2 linked regions of the Homo sapiens genome follow. The protein of the gene in region 2 interacts with the protein of the main gene of each other region in a pairwise test. Each region holds a gene or a part of one and is shown on either strand. Other genes may lie near its edges. The genes, in order: SPECC1L and ZFHX3.

Region 1 (3,917 bases), on a different chromosome or scaffold from region 2:
TAACTTCTTATGGACATATATGCAAAAACGCTAAATAAAATATTAGCAAATAATCCAGCAATGGATTAAACATGTATCACGACCAAGTTGGGGTTTTCCTAGGAAACTAAGATTATGTAATAAAAGAAAAAACTATTAAAGTAGTACAAACTATCAAAGGAAAAAACCTGTATGATCATTGCAACAGGTTCATTTGCGACATAATACAATTTTTTTCTTTTTTTTTTTTTAAGTCTTTTTGGCTGTAAGTTTATTCAATGCAAAATAATCCTCTCCAATTCTACTGAGGTGGCTGACGGTGTCCACGACCAAATTTGCCTCTAAACTGGAATTCGGTTGCTGACCCAGCCCCAGCCTCGGCTTTCTTGTCGGCACCAGGGGGCACAGCACTCCTTCTGTAGGTATCTCTGTCGGCTTCTCCTCTTGTGAGTCTTGCAGGTCGCTCACCCTCCAGACCTTTAGACCGAGGCCTGCCAGTCCCTGGACGGCTGCGGCGTAGGGTGGCAGGCACAATCTCCAGGGGCAGATGAAGGTAATCACGGAGATACTGGATATCCTCATTGGTAAGGTACCAGTAGACATGTCTCCAGGCAAACTGTTCCTTCACGTAGTAGCCTCGGGACTACATGACAGGAAGGTTGGGCACACACATTCTTTTTTTTTTGAGAGGAGTCTCACTCTGTCGCCCAGGCTGGAGTGCAGGGGCGCGATCTCGGCTCACTGCAACCTCCGCCCCCTGGGTTCAAGCAATTCTCCTGCCTTGGCCTCCCGACTAGCTGGGATTACAGGTGTCTGCCACCGCGCCTGGCTAATATTTTTGTATTTTTAGTAGACACGGGTTTCACCATCTTGGCCAGGCTGGTCTTGAACTCCTGACCTCGTGATCCGCCCGCCTCGGCCTCCCAAAGTGCTGGGATTACAGGCCTAAGCCACCGCGCCCGGCCGGGCACATTCTTGTCTGCCAACTCCAGGTGCTTAGGCATGTGGACATCCTTCTTGACCACCGTGACTTCCTCTTTAAAAAGGAGTTCATAAATGGCAATCCGGTTTTTCTTAGGCATCAGCATTCTGGGGAGGAGCAGCCGCTAAGGTGGCAGGGTGGCCCGGATGGGGGCCGATGGAACTCGAACTCCCCCAGAATTTCTTTAATATTTTATATATATATATATATATATATACATATATATATGTATATATATACACATATATATACATATATATATACGTATATATATATGTATATATATACATATATATATACGTATATATATATACGTATATATATATGTATATACATATATATATACATATATGTTGCTCGCTTATTCTTTTTGTCTGTTCCCTTATGTACCGGGAGTGCCAGGAGGACAGGGCTTTGTGTTTTCCTCACTGCTGTCTGGCTCATGCATAGCACAGTCCTTGGCACACGGTAAACACGCTGAGGAGAACTTTTGGGACTAGCGGACTCTGAGCATCATTCCGCTGGGCCCAGTGGGGCCTCTGAAGGGACCCGCCTTGCCCGGCTCCAGCCCAAGACCTGAGGCATGCGCACCGGCTGGCCGGCTACTTTCTTGACCGGCCAAGTGGCAGAGCGGCTGCGCGACCCAGTGCCGAGACGGACGCGAGCCGGAGATGGGGGAAGGGGAGGGGGTGGTGGTGGGGGACGGCGGCGCCTGCGCAGTGAAGGAATGTAGGCGGGGCCTCCACGACGCCTGCGCAGACGGCCGCAGCCCTGCTGGGCGCGAAGGGGCTGGCCAAGGGCGGGGCCCGCGAGGGAGGCCGGGCGGCCCGGCAAGCGGCGCTGCGGGGTAGGCTGCTTTCCTGAGGCCGGACTCAACGGGTCTCGGCTGAGCCACCGGGTGAGCTCACCGCCCAGCCCAAACCAGGAGATTGCGAGGGAGCGATGCGGTGCAGCGCGGTAAGAGCAGCAGCCGGGTTCCCGCAGTGTTCGCTGGCGGGTTGGTTTATCGCCTCAGCGCCGCCCGCGCTGCCGCGCCCGGGCGTCCCCGCAGACCCCGGCAGGCCCAGCGCCTGCGCCGTCTCTGCTCCTGGGCCCCTCCAGTGTGTCCCGCGCCTGCGCCTTTCCCTTCCCGCGCCGTCCTCGTTCTGGGCTTCGGGGCTTCTGGAACAACCCGCAGGCTTCGCCGCCGAGACCCACTGGCCTTCGTCCGTTGGTGTTGGGGTTCAGCTGGTTCTGGGACCCCGCTTGCGGCTTGACTGTGTGCAGACAGGCCGGGTGCGACCCTCGTGCTTGCCTTTCCGCCGCTCCGGGAGAGGCTGGGGCTGCCGCCCCATCGCCCGGGTCCCTTGCCTGGGGCGGGGACAGCGTTGTTCAGTGGCCCCGAGGGCGCAGAGCGGAGGAGCAGGGGCCACAGGCGGCGGACCCCGGGCCTGCTGCCGGTGCTGCTTCTGCTGTGGCCGGCGCCCGAGGCGGACGGAACGTCCTTTTTTCTTGAGACGTGGTTAATTGCATCAGGTTGGATGTGAATAATCCGGTACCTGTCTGAGGAAATTTTGCGTTTCCAGGAATTTGGTAATTGTATTACCTTAAGTAGTTAAGTCTAAGACATCATAGTCGCGGCACGTTGGGCAAGCTGCCCTGGAGATGACGAAAAGAAATCAGTTTCCAGTAGTTTTAGCCCATTTACAGAACACGCAAAAATTCTGTGATCATTCAAATGCGGGGAACCTTGATTTGTTGATATCCTTGATCATTTGTCCAAGTACCAGAAGGGCGAGGAAAAGATTCCCGTGAACAGCCCAGGTGATTTCAGGGAACAGTGTTTTCTTTTGTCAAAAGAGCCTCTTAAGCCATGATAATATTTCCCAAGCTTATAACAGATACAAGCCTTTAAAAAATGGCATTTGCTGTCACCCAGTAGGACACATCTTGAGATGAAATCAGAGCTGTAGGCTTTGTAGACAACAGCAGTCATTTCTGGTGGCTTCAGGGAGTGGAGGGGGACTGCAATTTTGCCAATGTAGGTGATACCAAAGGGACTATAGTAATTTTTTCTTCGTAATTAAAAACCAGGCCAGGCGCGGTGCCTCATGCCTGTAATCCCAGCACTTTGGGAGGCCGGGGCGGGCGGATCACCTGAAGTCAGGAGTTCAAGACCAGCCTGACCAACATGGTGAAATCCTGTCTCTACTAAAAATACAAAAAGCGCGCGCCTGTAATCCCAGCTACTCAGGAGGGTGAGGCAGGAGAATCGCTTGAACCCGGGAGGCGGAGGTTGCAGTGAGCCGAGTTCGCGCCACTGTACCCCAGCCTGGGCTACAGAGCGAGGCTCCGTCTCAAAAAAACAAAAACCAGATATAACAAGGCCGAGCTCCCTGGCTCACGCCTGTAATCACAGTAGTTTGGGAGGCCGAGGCGGGTGGATCACCTGAGGTTAGGAGTTCGATACCAGCCTGGCCAACATGGTGAAACCCCGTCTCTACAAAAAATATAAAAATTAGTCGGGCGTGGTGGCACACGCTTGTGATCCCAGCGGCTCGGGAGGCCGAGACAGGAGAATTGCTTAGGAGGCAGAGGGTGCAGTGAACCGAGGTCTCGCCACTGCACTCCAGCCTGGGCGACAGAGTGAGACTCTGTCTCAAAAAAAAAAAAAAACAGCTATTACAATATACATGTATGTTGTAAAATAACCAAACCAACATAGAAGGGTATATAGTGAAAGGAGAAGTATTGTTGTGGGTAAAATTGTTTCAATAAATGGCTAATCCAGTATTTTTTTCCTCCAAAAAAACACCTTTTCCCCTTTGATTTAGTGTATACCACACAGAGTCGCTTAGCCGATTCAGTGACTTTTTTGATAGCTGGAGAATGCTTCCTAATGGTTGCAGGTGTGTAGGGGTTTTCTTGACATTTTCAGTAAGAAAGTGAATGTTGTGCCATAGGAAAGCTTTATCAC
Region 2 (3,917 bases):
GTTCAACTTACCGTTCATATCTTTCTGTCATAAACACTAGATCCAATTCCCATTTCAAAAAAGTTGAACCTACCTTTCTCATGGCTATCAATCAGTAAAACTTTTTTGCCTGCAATTGTGTCAAGCATCAAAAACTTTCATATAAATATTTGAATTAAAAATCTAGTTGCTATTAGGGCACTCTAGGGCCAAATATCGTCCAAGATATCAGACTCACCCCTCCCAATGAAGAAACGCAGACGGCATCATGGCCCAAACTTCTGACATTCATGAGCCCCAGGAGATGGGAAATACAAGCGTCTTTAGAAACACTAAAGGGCTCGTGTACATCCTTTTGTACCTTGGGATAAGTACTCCCTGCACACACAACCTCAAGGTATTCACATTTATACTTTGCCAGCCATCAGCCTCTCTCTCCTGCACACACACATGCATGTGCACAAATGTGGTAACAGAGACAGGAGCTTTTGCTCATATTTTTTTTTTAATGTATCACAATGAGCAGGAAACATACTTGATGAAATATTTTCAAAGGAGTATATTCAATTACCATCTACAATCAACTTAACTATGACAACAAAGTTTTTGTGACAAATTTTTTTTTCAGTTTGAAAGTTCCATGTGGTTCTGTTTGTTAGTCTCCATGTATTTTGGTACAGTTCGAGATCAGCATTGTTACAGTAACAAAAAAGCTAACAAGACTACATTATAGAAAAACACCAAGAACATCATTTTTGGTTTCACTTGCTCTATTTTTTTTGTTGTTTTTTGTTTTTTTTTCTTTTTGTACATTGCAAAGGCTGTTCATATACCTCTTCACCTCAGGGTCACGTTCATTTATGCTTTCTTTCCTACCCAAACTTGCCCCCCTCCCCCCTGAAGAAAGTAAACAAACAAAAAACTAGTCAAAGCTTTGTTTCACAGTGGGCAGTATCTCAGCGCCAACAAACAACTCAATTTATGCTTCTATTTAAAATGTTTTAATTTATTATTTAAAAAAAATATATGTCCATGAACATCAAGTGCACTGGCTTGGGTCACTGCCTCTCTCTCCTGCAACTTCCTGCCATGCCTGATAAACTCAGGTTTAAACACATGCCGTCTGTTTTACTTTATTTTCAATTGTGTAAAACTTTGGCCACATTCATCTCTTTAAATAGCTTGTAATTAAAAAAAAAATTCCTAGATGTATTAAATTTTTCCTTGTGTAGATATGTGGTTTTTGGAAGGATGGAGGAAAGATGGATGAAATAACTCCCATTCTGTGGGTCAGACTGGTGTCTAGCACCAACCCACACTATAGGGAGAAAACCAAAAAACGAGTGTCAATGGAGGTGAAGAACTAATTTAAAAAGCAAGTGGAAATATATCCTACCCAGCTACCTACAATGCAGCAGACAGGAATAAATTCCCCAAGTGAGATAAAGCTAAACAAACAGTTGAGCATTGTAGTGAATTCATGCTTTGTAAATAGTACTGGTCATAGCCACGATGGCTGTCAGCCCACAAACATCTAACTCATGTTTGACCTCTAATGTTCACCATCACTGACTGCTTTGCTACTTCTGGGTTAGTGCTGAGAATTATTCTTACTTTTTTCAATGAACATATATGTGGGCGGTTTAGTTGCAGAGGAAAGCATTAAGGGTGCAACCCACTCCAGGTTGAAACAATCACATAACCCCTCTGAGAACACTAGGTGGGTGGAAGTGTGCTCAGCCAATCTATTCAACCACCTTATTGTCGCCAAACACCCACAGCTCAAGGCATGGCATAACAAAACACTGACAGTCACTCTGCCTCACAGAGGGAGGATGGCATAGTAGCTCCATGAAAAAAAAAAACAAAAACAAAAACAAAAACCCAAACCATCAGGGAGGGGGCAGCAAAATTATAAAGAAAAGAACTTAAAAGTTGAGGGGGGAGGGAAAAGGATAGAAATTGCACTATTACCAAGCAATATCATTTTTAAAAACAACGTTTTCAGAGAAGACCTAGCAGAATTTGACAGGTAAAGCTAGTGTTACATTGTTAACTGATATCACATAGAGAACCAAAAACAAAAACAATTTTTTTTCTATATGGTACAGACACAGAGTAACATACAACAGTTAAATGGCAAAAAATATATATATATATATTTCATAGAGTTACAAACAAGATAAAATAATGGAAAACAAAAAACTGTACAACTTTAAAATTTAAAAATGTTCATCTCAAACACAGGAAGAAATACAAGATTTCTTGTTAAAAGGAAATAGCTTGTTAAAACAGTAAATGTTTTGCGTACTTGCTTTTGACACCTTATGCTACAACTGGATACTGGTATGAATAGTTAGATGGTATTCTTTCTTTAGTATTTCTACTTAAAAAAAACAATTAAAAAAGGAATTTGCACTGTGCATCAGCCTAGTTAGAAATATGTACAACATTTCAGGATCTACTATTTCATTAAACTAAAAACAAATTCATAAAAATAAAATAGTCCCGGCTAAAAAAGAAAAAAAGAAAAAAAATCCATTTTCAGATCTTGGAATGCTCCAGTCTTTTGCAAAGTCGATGAGTGGCTTCAGCACTGGGGAAAGAAGCCCGAAAGGTGACCAATGGAACCTGTATTCACAGTCTTCAAAGTTCCCTTTTGAAACATAAGGAAGAAAACGAAGGGAAGAAGGATTTCACACTTTGGGGGCAAGGGGAGATGGTTTCTGTTGATGTTTAGCTATGAAAGTGAAACAGCAAAGCATCTATTTATTTGTCTCCAAAATCTATGTTTTAGCAGCACAAAGTTTTCAAAGTTCAGACCATTTATTTATTTTTCTTTTTACATGAGAAAGGGTGTGTGTTAACAGGAATATGGATATTAACAGAAACAAGTGCCTCACATACAGTTCCTTTTTTGCTTTCTGTACACTGCTATCTGCTGCTTTGTTGGCTGCGCTCTGGATCACTCGCTGCTCAGACTGCCTAACACAAGGACAAAACTTTGAAGTAAAAAATGTGTCTTTTGGTATATGGAATTGTCATTAACATTTGCCTCTCTGCTTGCAGAAGAAGCACATAACAACCTGGGAATCTTTTGTTTTTCTCTTTCTTTTATTAAACTAAGTCTTGTTTGTTTAAATCAGAAACAAATTCTCAAGTAACAAGAACCCTTTCCCTTTTTTCTGCATCAGCAGTGAAAGGGTGTGTCTTTGGATTTTATTTAAAGCATGAAATTTTTTTTTCTGAGAGAGGAAAGAAAAAACAAACACAAAACCAAAAACCAAATCCCTAACCAAAAACTTTTTTTAGAAAAGAAAAGTACACAGCCAATTACACAAATGGAAACAAATCCTTTAGTATAGAAAAAAAAAGAATATTTGAAGCTCCTACCAAACAAGGAGGAAAAGAAGGGGTACAAAGAAAAAAAAGCCAAAAGAAGGATAAATAAAAAATAAATGCACAAAGCTAACAGACACAGGTAACTAGAATTATATGCCTTTAAAAAGTTTCAACTCCCCAACCAAAAATAATCTGTGAGGATCCTAATGACCCCTAGAATCCCTTGAAATTCTTTCTTTAGTTTTATAAAATAATTCTGCAGCTCCCTCTAAGAAATGAAGGCAGCTACCTTAAGTGGGAGATTATAGGACGGGAGGTGGGAGAAGGAAAGAGAAAGTGGAATTAAGGGACAAGAAAGAGAAAGTGGAATTAAGGGACAAGGGGAGAAAAGCTTAGGCGAATCAACGGATTGCAATCTATCATCTGCTAGGAATGAACAAGACAACATCAAATGAGGAGCTGTCAGCTGGACCATACAAAAAGCTAAATGTACACAAAAGGTTTTTTTTTTTTTTTCCTTTTAAATCTACCATACTGCTTCAGTTCATTTCCAATGCAACAATCTACTCAACACCAAAAATGGTCATATCTATCAT

The links.
Region 1: the proteins of ZFHX3 (region 2) and SPECC1L interact in binary tests that used the Homo sapiens proteins (3 or more experiments, as listed by UniProt).

The regions. Positions count from the first base shown.
Region 1 is NC_000022.11:24,269,066-24,272,982, forward strand, and holds the start of SPECC1L (cytospin-A), read left to right. Parts: upstream 1-1,765; 5' UTR 1,766-1,918; intron 1,919-3,917. UniProt on the Homo sapiens protein: Involved in cytokinesis and spindle organization. May play a role in actin cytoskeleton organization and microtubule stabilization and hence required for proper cell adhesion and migration.
Region 2 is NC_000016.10:72,782,420-72,786,336, forward strand, and holds the end of ZFHX3 (zinc finger homeobox protein 3), read right to left. Parts: 3' UTR 466-3,917; downstream 1-465.